Regions from separate parts of the Homo sapiens genome. Here region 2 is reported to be linked to region 1. The links are microRNA targets in miRTarBase. Many come from high-throughput screens and were not tested one by one. Region 1 holds a microRNA gene; the other region holds the end of a gene's coding sequence.
What was found. The annotated mature microRNA hsa-miR-548h-3p reads CAAAAACCGCAAUUACUUUUGCA and lies in region 1 at 1,498-1,520, shown strand. An mRNA with a match to its seed (bases 2 to 7 or 8) in the 3' UTR can be bound and repressed. Matches are read on the target gene's strand: a 7mer-m8 pairs with bases 2 to 8, a 7mer-A1 pairs with bases 2 to 7 and ends in A, and an 8mer does both.

Region 1 (4,150 bases):
CCAAACACAAGATGAAAGAAAACGTGGAGCAGAATACAAAAGGAATTATTTCATGCTGCATTCAGAGGTGTCATTCATACCCAGGAAGCACTTTTAATTACCAATCTGGTGTTAATTTTCTTATCTGTGTCTCATCTGTGACTAAACATTATCCAGCCCAGGCTGATAAATTCTGATATGAATCAGATATTATTTCAAATTTATGCTTTAGCCATACCCATGTAAGCAGTCTCCTACCCCATATATCTCATTTACAGAGACTGTTTATTTGTAGTTAACTTTTAAAAATTCAGATTCATAGAATTACAACTATAAATTGCCAAACATGTATAGAATTATTATTATACAGAAAATAATATCAGTGTCATTATATCCAATTAATCTTTCATTCAGAATCTTGTGCAGAACAGATTAAATTGAGAACTTAATTTTTTACACATTCACGATTTAACCAGAGAATGTGGCTCTATTTTATATTAACAAATAATTTCTTTGTTTATTCAATAAGCAGTATTCATTGTATTATTAAAAAATGGTCTACTCATAAGGTTTTAAAACAATTGAGTCTATTTATTTCTTTTCCCCTCATGTGTTAATATTTTTTTTGCCTAGTGCTTTAGAAAATATATGACCTAGAAAGCAGCCTAATTCTTGTCACAGCTGCAACCTTACTGATGCAGAAAATTTGGCATTTATATACAATGAAGCTGTCTCTAATGCTTTGTCCACCTTCTAGAATCCCCTTTGTTTAATTACTATGTTTGGAGCCTCAAAAAGGGCCTGCTTTCAGGAATAAGTGGATGGGAATGAGGGGATGCTGATGTGTGAATAAAACGGTGATATAAAAGAAAATGGCTAATTCCCCCCTCTGGCTGAAGTCTGTGGAGGTTGTTCTGCCTGTCACTGATAGCTGTGTGAGTCAGTCTCCAATTTGGGAATTACAATCCTGACCCACCCCCACACCAGGATTGCCCCTGCTACACGTTTCCATGGTGCCAAACTTCCCTGTCCTAGCACGTGATGGCAATTGCTTCTGCTTTCCCTGATAGATGTGCAGGGTTGGGGACAATGCTTGCCTTCCCAGAGTCACATCAATATCTCGCACAGAGCTGGCACATGGCGGGCCCTTCATAAATGCTTGTTCAATGAAAGAATAAAGACAGTTTAAAATTTGAGCTCATTTCTGCCTTTTTCTTTTTAATAGCTTTATCAAAGTATAAATTGATAGACAGAAAAACCCCACATGTATTTCATGTGTACAATTTGATGAGCTTGGGTATACATATACACCCATGATATCATCACAATCAAAATGATAAACATATCCATCGCCTCCAAAAGTTTCCTCTGCCCCCTGCTTTTTGTGGCAAGTGTACCACAGAAAACTTGAAGCCAAACTTGTGATCCTTCGTTGTTCCATTTCCAAAGCTATTAGGTTGGTGCAAAAGTAATCGCGGTTTTTGTCATTACTTTAATTACTTTACGTTTCATTAATGACAAAAACCGCAATTACTTTTGCACCAACCTAATACTTGCTATCATCACTTCTTGTCTATTTTCCATTCCTCTTATAAATGTTGTACAAACTAAATCACACTTAAATAAAATAAATGGGAAATAAAGAAAAAGGAAAAAAGGATGAATGCAGGGAAAAAACACTGCCTGGGTCTGTCTTCTGTCATTCCCCAAAATAACAAGCACAAGCCCTGATATTCATATTCCCAGCATTCACCAGTTGCCCTTTTTTTTTTTTGAGATGGAGTTTCACTCTTGTCGCCCAGGCTACAGTGCAATGGCGTGATCTTGGCTCACTGCAACCTCCACCTCCCAGGTTCAAGCGATTCTCCAGCCTCAGCCTCTCGAGTAGCTGGGACTACAGGTGTGCACCACCATGCCTGACTAATTTTTGTATTTTTAGTAGAGATGGGGTTTTGCCATGTTGGCCAGGCTGGTCTCAAACTCCTGACCTCAGGTGATCCGCCAGCCTTGGCCTCCCCAGATCCTGGGGTTATAGGCGTAAGCCACCCTGCCCGGCCCAGCTGACTTTTATCTTGAGTGACAGTTTTAGAGAAAGGAGGAGGAGGAAATTAGTATATATGGCAGTAGTATGACATTTCATGATCTTAAAAATAGATTTCACCAACTGTAGAAGGTGTTCCCTAAACTAACTGCCTGTGTAGTCTTAATCTTCTCAACGTAACAACAGGTAGTCCATATTGTGGCAGGGTTGGGAGGTGGTGATGGAAAGGGGAGGTGTGAATTCCACAAGGTCTGAGACTGGGACAGGAAGTCTCCATTTTGGCAGTGCTGGTGGGGTAAGAAAGGGCTAATTAGAAGAAAATGCAGAAGCTGAAGTTGAAAGATCAGGCAAAGGCAAAATACTGGTCTAGTAGGAAGTCCAGATCATGGTCAAGTTGGATGGCTTCAGAGGGAGCTATTCAGATGGGCTCCAAAAGTGTCAGCGATCTTCTCTGATAAGCTACCCAAGCTCAGGGCAGGGATACTGATGCTCATTTTATGGTAAGAGCCAGCAAATGAGATGCACTGATTCCACGTTTGTGGATTCTAAACAGCATTTTGCCTTCCTTCTCTATAGTCCTCTTTGCAGCACTCCACGTTACCACCACGGGCATCCCAGATGTTCCTCCTTCATAAACACCTCTAGTTGTTCGCTTTCCCAACTCATCCCTTTTCCCAGCCTCAAGGAAGATAAATCAGTTTTGGGCATTAACTTCCATCCAGTGCACTGGGCTGAGGAATCAGCATGGCTGATTCTGCTATCACTTTCACGAAGCCTGGGGGCAAATGAGGGGAGTAGGGAGGGGTTGGGACCAGGGCACACACATATTGTGAATCTAGGAAGAATCTTAGGATTAAAGCTGTTGCATTTTCCACTTGTATTGAAGCCTTGGGGGTAATGGCTATCCCTTTACCACACTCTCCACCTGACTAAGCTCTCTTCAGCAGAACAATCAACCCAGGCTATGGCTGACTTCATCCAGGGAGACCTAAATTTTTCCATTTACTAGGACTTCTTGGACTTTTTTTTTTCTTTTAATAACCATATAGTCAGCTTTACCCACAATGCATCACCTCTTGTCATCCTCAGACACAACGTGAGACATAAGTTGCACTGACCAACTGAATCCTTCTAGTCTCATCCTCTCCTCTGAGATCTTCCTACTGCTTCTTTTACTATTAAGTCCTCTAGAATCCCTATGCTATGAAAAACACAATCCATACAATTTCACCCTGAACATCTCCACTTGGACACAATAGACATCTCAAACTTAACATATCAAAAACAGAACTCCTTTTTTTTTTCTTCTTTTTTTTTGATACAGGGTCTTACTCTGTCATCTAGGCTGGAGTGCAGTGGCGCAATCTCGGGTCACTGCAGCGTCCACTTCCCGGGCTCACGCGATTCTCTTGCCTCAGCCACTTCAGCAGCTGGGATTACAGGTGTGCACCACCATGCCCGGCTAACTATTGTATTTTTAGTAGAGATGGAGTCTTGCCATGTTGAGCAGGCTAGTCTCGGACTCCTCAAGCCATCTGCCCTCCTCAATCTCCCAAAGTGCTGGGATTACAGGCATGAGCCATTGTGCTGCCCTAGAATTCTTTATTCTATTCCAATCCTTTCCCCAATCTATTTCTGCTTCACTTGGCTTCCTATTATTGAACAGTTACACCATTCTTCCAGCTGCTCAGGCCAAAAACTTTGGAGTCATCTGTGCTATCTTTCTTATTTTCTAACCCACATCTAAGTCCTCAGCAAGTCCTGTTGACATTTCCTTGAAAAATACAGCTCAAGTTGAACTGCTTCTCATCACCTCCACAGCTACCCAGAGGAAGCTGACGTATGTTCTCCTAACTCAGCCCCACTTTTTCTGTTTTTGTTCACCTATGCTCTATTCTGTTCCCAGCTACTGAAATGATCCTTTTTTTTTGAGACAGAGTCTCGCTCTGTCGCCCAGTCTGGAGTGCAGTGGTGCAATCTTGGCTCACTGCAAGCTCCACCTCCCAGGTTCACGCCATTCTCCTGCCTCAGCCTCACGAGTAGCTGGGACTACAGGCACCTGCCACCATGCCAGGCTAATTTTTTGTATTTTTAGTAGAGACGGGGTTTCACTGTGTTAGCCAGGATGGT
Region 2 (4,000 bases), not on the chromosome of region 1:
GATCTGATTGAAATAAATGCTATCTGGAGACCCGAAAAACCAAAAATTTGCTTTGAAGTCCGGTTACTGTTCAACTTTCCCGCTAAGCACGTGCTGGGCTGGCAATACCGATACGACCCAGGGACCCAGCCACACACCCTCCCCCCGGGACCAGGAAGAGATTAGAATCTGGTTTGCTCTTTCTCTAGGCTCTCACCAGGGCACTTGGGCGCAGCCACAAATGCTTCAGTTCCAAAATGCAAAGGATGAAGAAATCAGAAAAGTCCCCAATGCCACCGGCCACCTTCAGGGAGAGCCTGGCTGTCCAGACAAGCCGCTGGTCAGGTGCATAGCAGTGGGAAATGCTGTGTGTTGAGGGCATCTTCATAGGTCCAGCTGGCCGCTCCACATGGACACCCAACAACCAGACCTTCCGTCAAGCTCAACGGAACCCCCCCAGTGACTCGGAGGAGGCTCGGGCTCCTGTCACACAGACCCTCCGTTGAACTCGATTGAACCCCTCCAGTGACTCAGAGGAGGCTCAGGCTCCTGTCACACAGATCCTCCGTTGAGCTCAATTGAACCCCTCCAGTGACTCAGAGGAGGCTCAGGCTCCTGTCACACAGAGTCTGGCACTTTCCTGTAAGCATCAACATCAGCAGAACACGATCATGGCTCAGTCTCTGAGCAGAATTCTGATGATCCTGCAACCCCAACTGGACTCTTCTAAACTAGCAAGCTCTCTGTCCCAGGAGCACTTGGAGAGGCTGCCCTGCTCCACCTCACTTCTGAACGGCCGGCTGGAGCCACGCAGATGCACACTGGTTTGGACAAATGCACATGCACTCCCCAACTCCTCTCACCTCTGGGTCCTCCCCTCCAGCCTTAGGCCCAGGGCTCACTCCTTAGTGCCCCCCACACCTCATGAGCAGGCCTAGTTCATTGTCTCCAAGACATTCTGCAAAGGCCTCACTACCCCCGAAGGTCTAAGGAGTTCCTACTGACTTAGGGTCTACAGGGTTCAAAATGCTCTGAGCAGACTGAGAAACCAAAGACCAGTTCCAAATAAGACTTATCCTGAGGAGCACCAGGAGTGCCCATCATCAATTCACAAAATCCTAAACCTCCAAATGGAGGGGACATGACATGTCACCTTACCCTCGATGAACGCCCTCTACACAAATACCCTAGCCAGTCTTGACTCCTTTTGACATGACCCTGTTGTGGGAGCTGCAAAGACCATCATGGATCCCACAAACAGGCATGGCGCTGGGCAAGACGGCCATGGATCCCACAGACAGGGATGGCACCAGGCAGCCCGTGGTGCAAGGCAGGAAAGGGGAGGACAAAGCAGGGCAGGGATTAGAGAGTGCAGAGGCCCAGCTTTAGGAAGATGGTTGAAGCCTGCAAAGAGTTAACGGCATTCCACTGGGTCTGGGAGGATAAACGTGGTTTGGATAGAGACACAGGGACAGCATGAGCGAAGGGCCCATAAGGGAAGGACCTCGGTATTTAACAGAAGCATTGGACAGAGAAGTCTGGTGAAACGGACGGAAGGCTAGAGAGGCAGCTGGGATTAACTCACGGAGGCCTGGACTGTCCCGGCCAGTGGGTAAGACTGTGCTCTTTAGATGGGCGCTGGAGGTGAAGTGTCCTGTGTTTAGTGAAATCCCTCTCTCAATAGCCCGGATGGAGGATAAGAGGAGCCCTGCAGGGAGGACAATGAACCAGGAAGCAGCCGACAGGGAATGGAATGGAGGCAGAGGATCGACAGGGAATGGAATGGAGGCAGAGGATCGGCAGCCTGGGGGAGGAATGGCAGGGCCTCCTCCCTGATCAGCCAGGCCAGGGACAGAGTGGCACATAAAGGGCACATGAGCCTGGGTAACAAGAAGAAGGCTGCTGGTGGTCAGAGACACTGGGCTATCAGGGGAATTCTAACAGTTGGGAGAAAATGCCCAGCTCGTCGTGGGGAAGCTTGAGAGGTAACATTTGAGAGGCCAGGAAGCATTAGCTCGTGGCAGCTGCACTTTTCTCTGCCTTTGATCATCGCCCGTCTGGGCACCTGGCTGACACTGACTAGAAGGAGAAAGGGCCAGGGCCAGGAGGCATTTGCTCCCCCTCCCATGGCCAGAGGCAGCCAGCATCCTAATGAATGAGGGTGAGTGAAGGAAGTATTTGGAATTTCACAGAGAGGCCCATTTCCTTCTGCACATATGAAGCACCTGCTAGTGCTGTGTACTAGACACTGGAAAGCTGAATTTCCAGGAGGAGGAGATGCTCGTAGAAACAATAAACGAACAACATGCAGCGGGAGAGCCACAGACAGGACACATAAGGTCTAGAAGAAGCCTCAGTGTGAACCAAAGGGGAAGGGGAGGGGGAGGAAGAGGAAGGGAAGGGGAAGGAAGCAGCTTAGGGTTAAAGGACAAAAGAGATCCCAAGCTCCAGGCCCACAGGCCAGGGAGGTCCCAGGAGTGAGGGGGTGGGGGGGGGGGTCCAGGGTGGGCGGGGCAGGTCCAGGAAGCGAGGGTGGTGGGGGGGGGCAGGGAAGGCGGTTGGCGGGGGTGGGGAGGGCACGGGAGTGGGGGAAGGGTGGGGGGGTGCCAAGGAGGGTAGGAAAGGGGCCAGGAAGGGGTCTGGGGAGGGGTGGGGGGGGCAGGGGTAGGGCCGGGGAGGGTGGGTTGTGGGAGAGGATGAGCGGGAGGCGGGAAGGGGCTGGGCAAGGTGGTGCTAGTAATGGGGGAGGGCTGGGGAGGGCCTGGGGACCTGAGTGCAGTGGACAAGGAAGAAGCCTTGGAGATGGGCAGGCGGCAGTGCTGCTAGGAAGAACAAGGGAGAGAGGAGACCAGGTGCCAAGGGACAAGACGATGACTGTGAGATGGGCAAATATCACCCAACCCGTGCCCGGCACCATTTTCCATGTTAACAGACACATGTAGCATCTTCACCTGAAATGCTCTCGAAGGTCTGCGAAGGCCACAGCACACTAAAGCACTGATGTGATGAAGCGTGTGTGTGTGTCTATGTGAGTACTTAGCACAACAGTACTTGGGCAGGAGGTAAGTCCATTAAATAACCGTCTTTATTTAGAAACGCAGACCCCACACGTTTCAGGAATCCTGAGCCCCAGTCTGGCTTTGTCACCCCCTGACTCTGTGAGGTTGAGTCAGCTGACTTGTCAGGACCCCTTTGTAAAATGTATGAGGTTTTGATCCAAGTAGAGTTAGAAGTTTAAAAGTTCGCCCATTTGTAAAATTATGGGGCTCAACTACATTTTTTAAGCAGGCTTCCAATTCTTAAAAACAACTACAGCAATAAAACTAGGGTGAGTCTATGATTTCAGGCAAATTCTAATTGGCTGATTGTACGTTAGACCTTTTTCTTTTGCATCTAAAATTAAATGAACTGATACCTTCATGTATACACTTGATCTCTGTTAAGATGGTGGACGAAAAATTTGTTAGAATAGAAAAAAAATACATGAAGAGTGAAATAACATGATCTCTTCAGAATGGCCAAATTGTGCTGAGATGGTGATGAGGAGCCGCTCTATGTCCTGAGGCATCTTCTAAGAAAATTCTCTGGCTGGTGCTTTCTGAGTTCATCCTCCTCGGACCTCACTGCTCTCACATTTTTGTTTGTATTTCTTCATCCTCTGCCTGGTTGACCTGTCCTGGAGCGTGGGGTCTGATCGGGTTCTTGGACTCCACGCACTCCACAAGCCCATACGCCACCATGGTCAGGCTCAGGACCCCCAGCAGAATGTAGAGCTTGACGTGCACGCACAAAAACATGCTGTACCCGAAGGCAATGACGAAGCCCAGGGCCTCCCACAGGCGGTAATTGGCGAAGGCAGCTTCCTTGCTCTTCTCAAACAGAACGCCGTAGAGAGCTGCAGAGGAGAGAGCGGAGTGAGAGCTCTGCCATGGGCCCCACAGTGACCCTGTTTGTGAAAAGAGCACAGCTTTCCCACTGCCCCATTTTCTCAACTAAATCAAGACATTTTTCTTTTTTCACA

Region 2: miRTarBase lists UNC93A as a target of hsa-miR-548h-3p. Seed matches in the 3' UTR shown: 7mer-A1 at 3,280-3,286.

The regions. Positions count from the first base shown.
Region 1 is chr8:27,046,241-27,050,390 of GRCh38, reverse strand. It overlaps MIR548H4 (microRNA 548h-4), which reads left to right and starts at 1,428; the gene lies at 1,428-1,538.
Region 2 is chr6:167,315,061-167,319,060 of GRCh38, reverse strand. UNC93A (unc-93 homolog A) reads right to left here. Exons shown (of 8, transcript NM_018974.4): 8 at 3,047-3,874. The coding sequence ends at 3,609. Among named protein-coding and RNA genes, the nearest start is that of TTLL2, 8.0 kb to the left of the region's middle. RefSeq lists an enhancer at 1,596-2,391.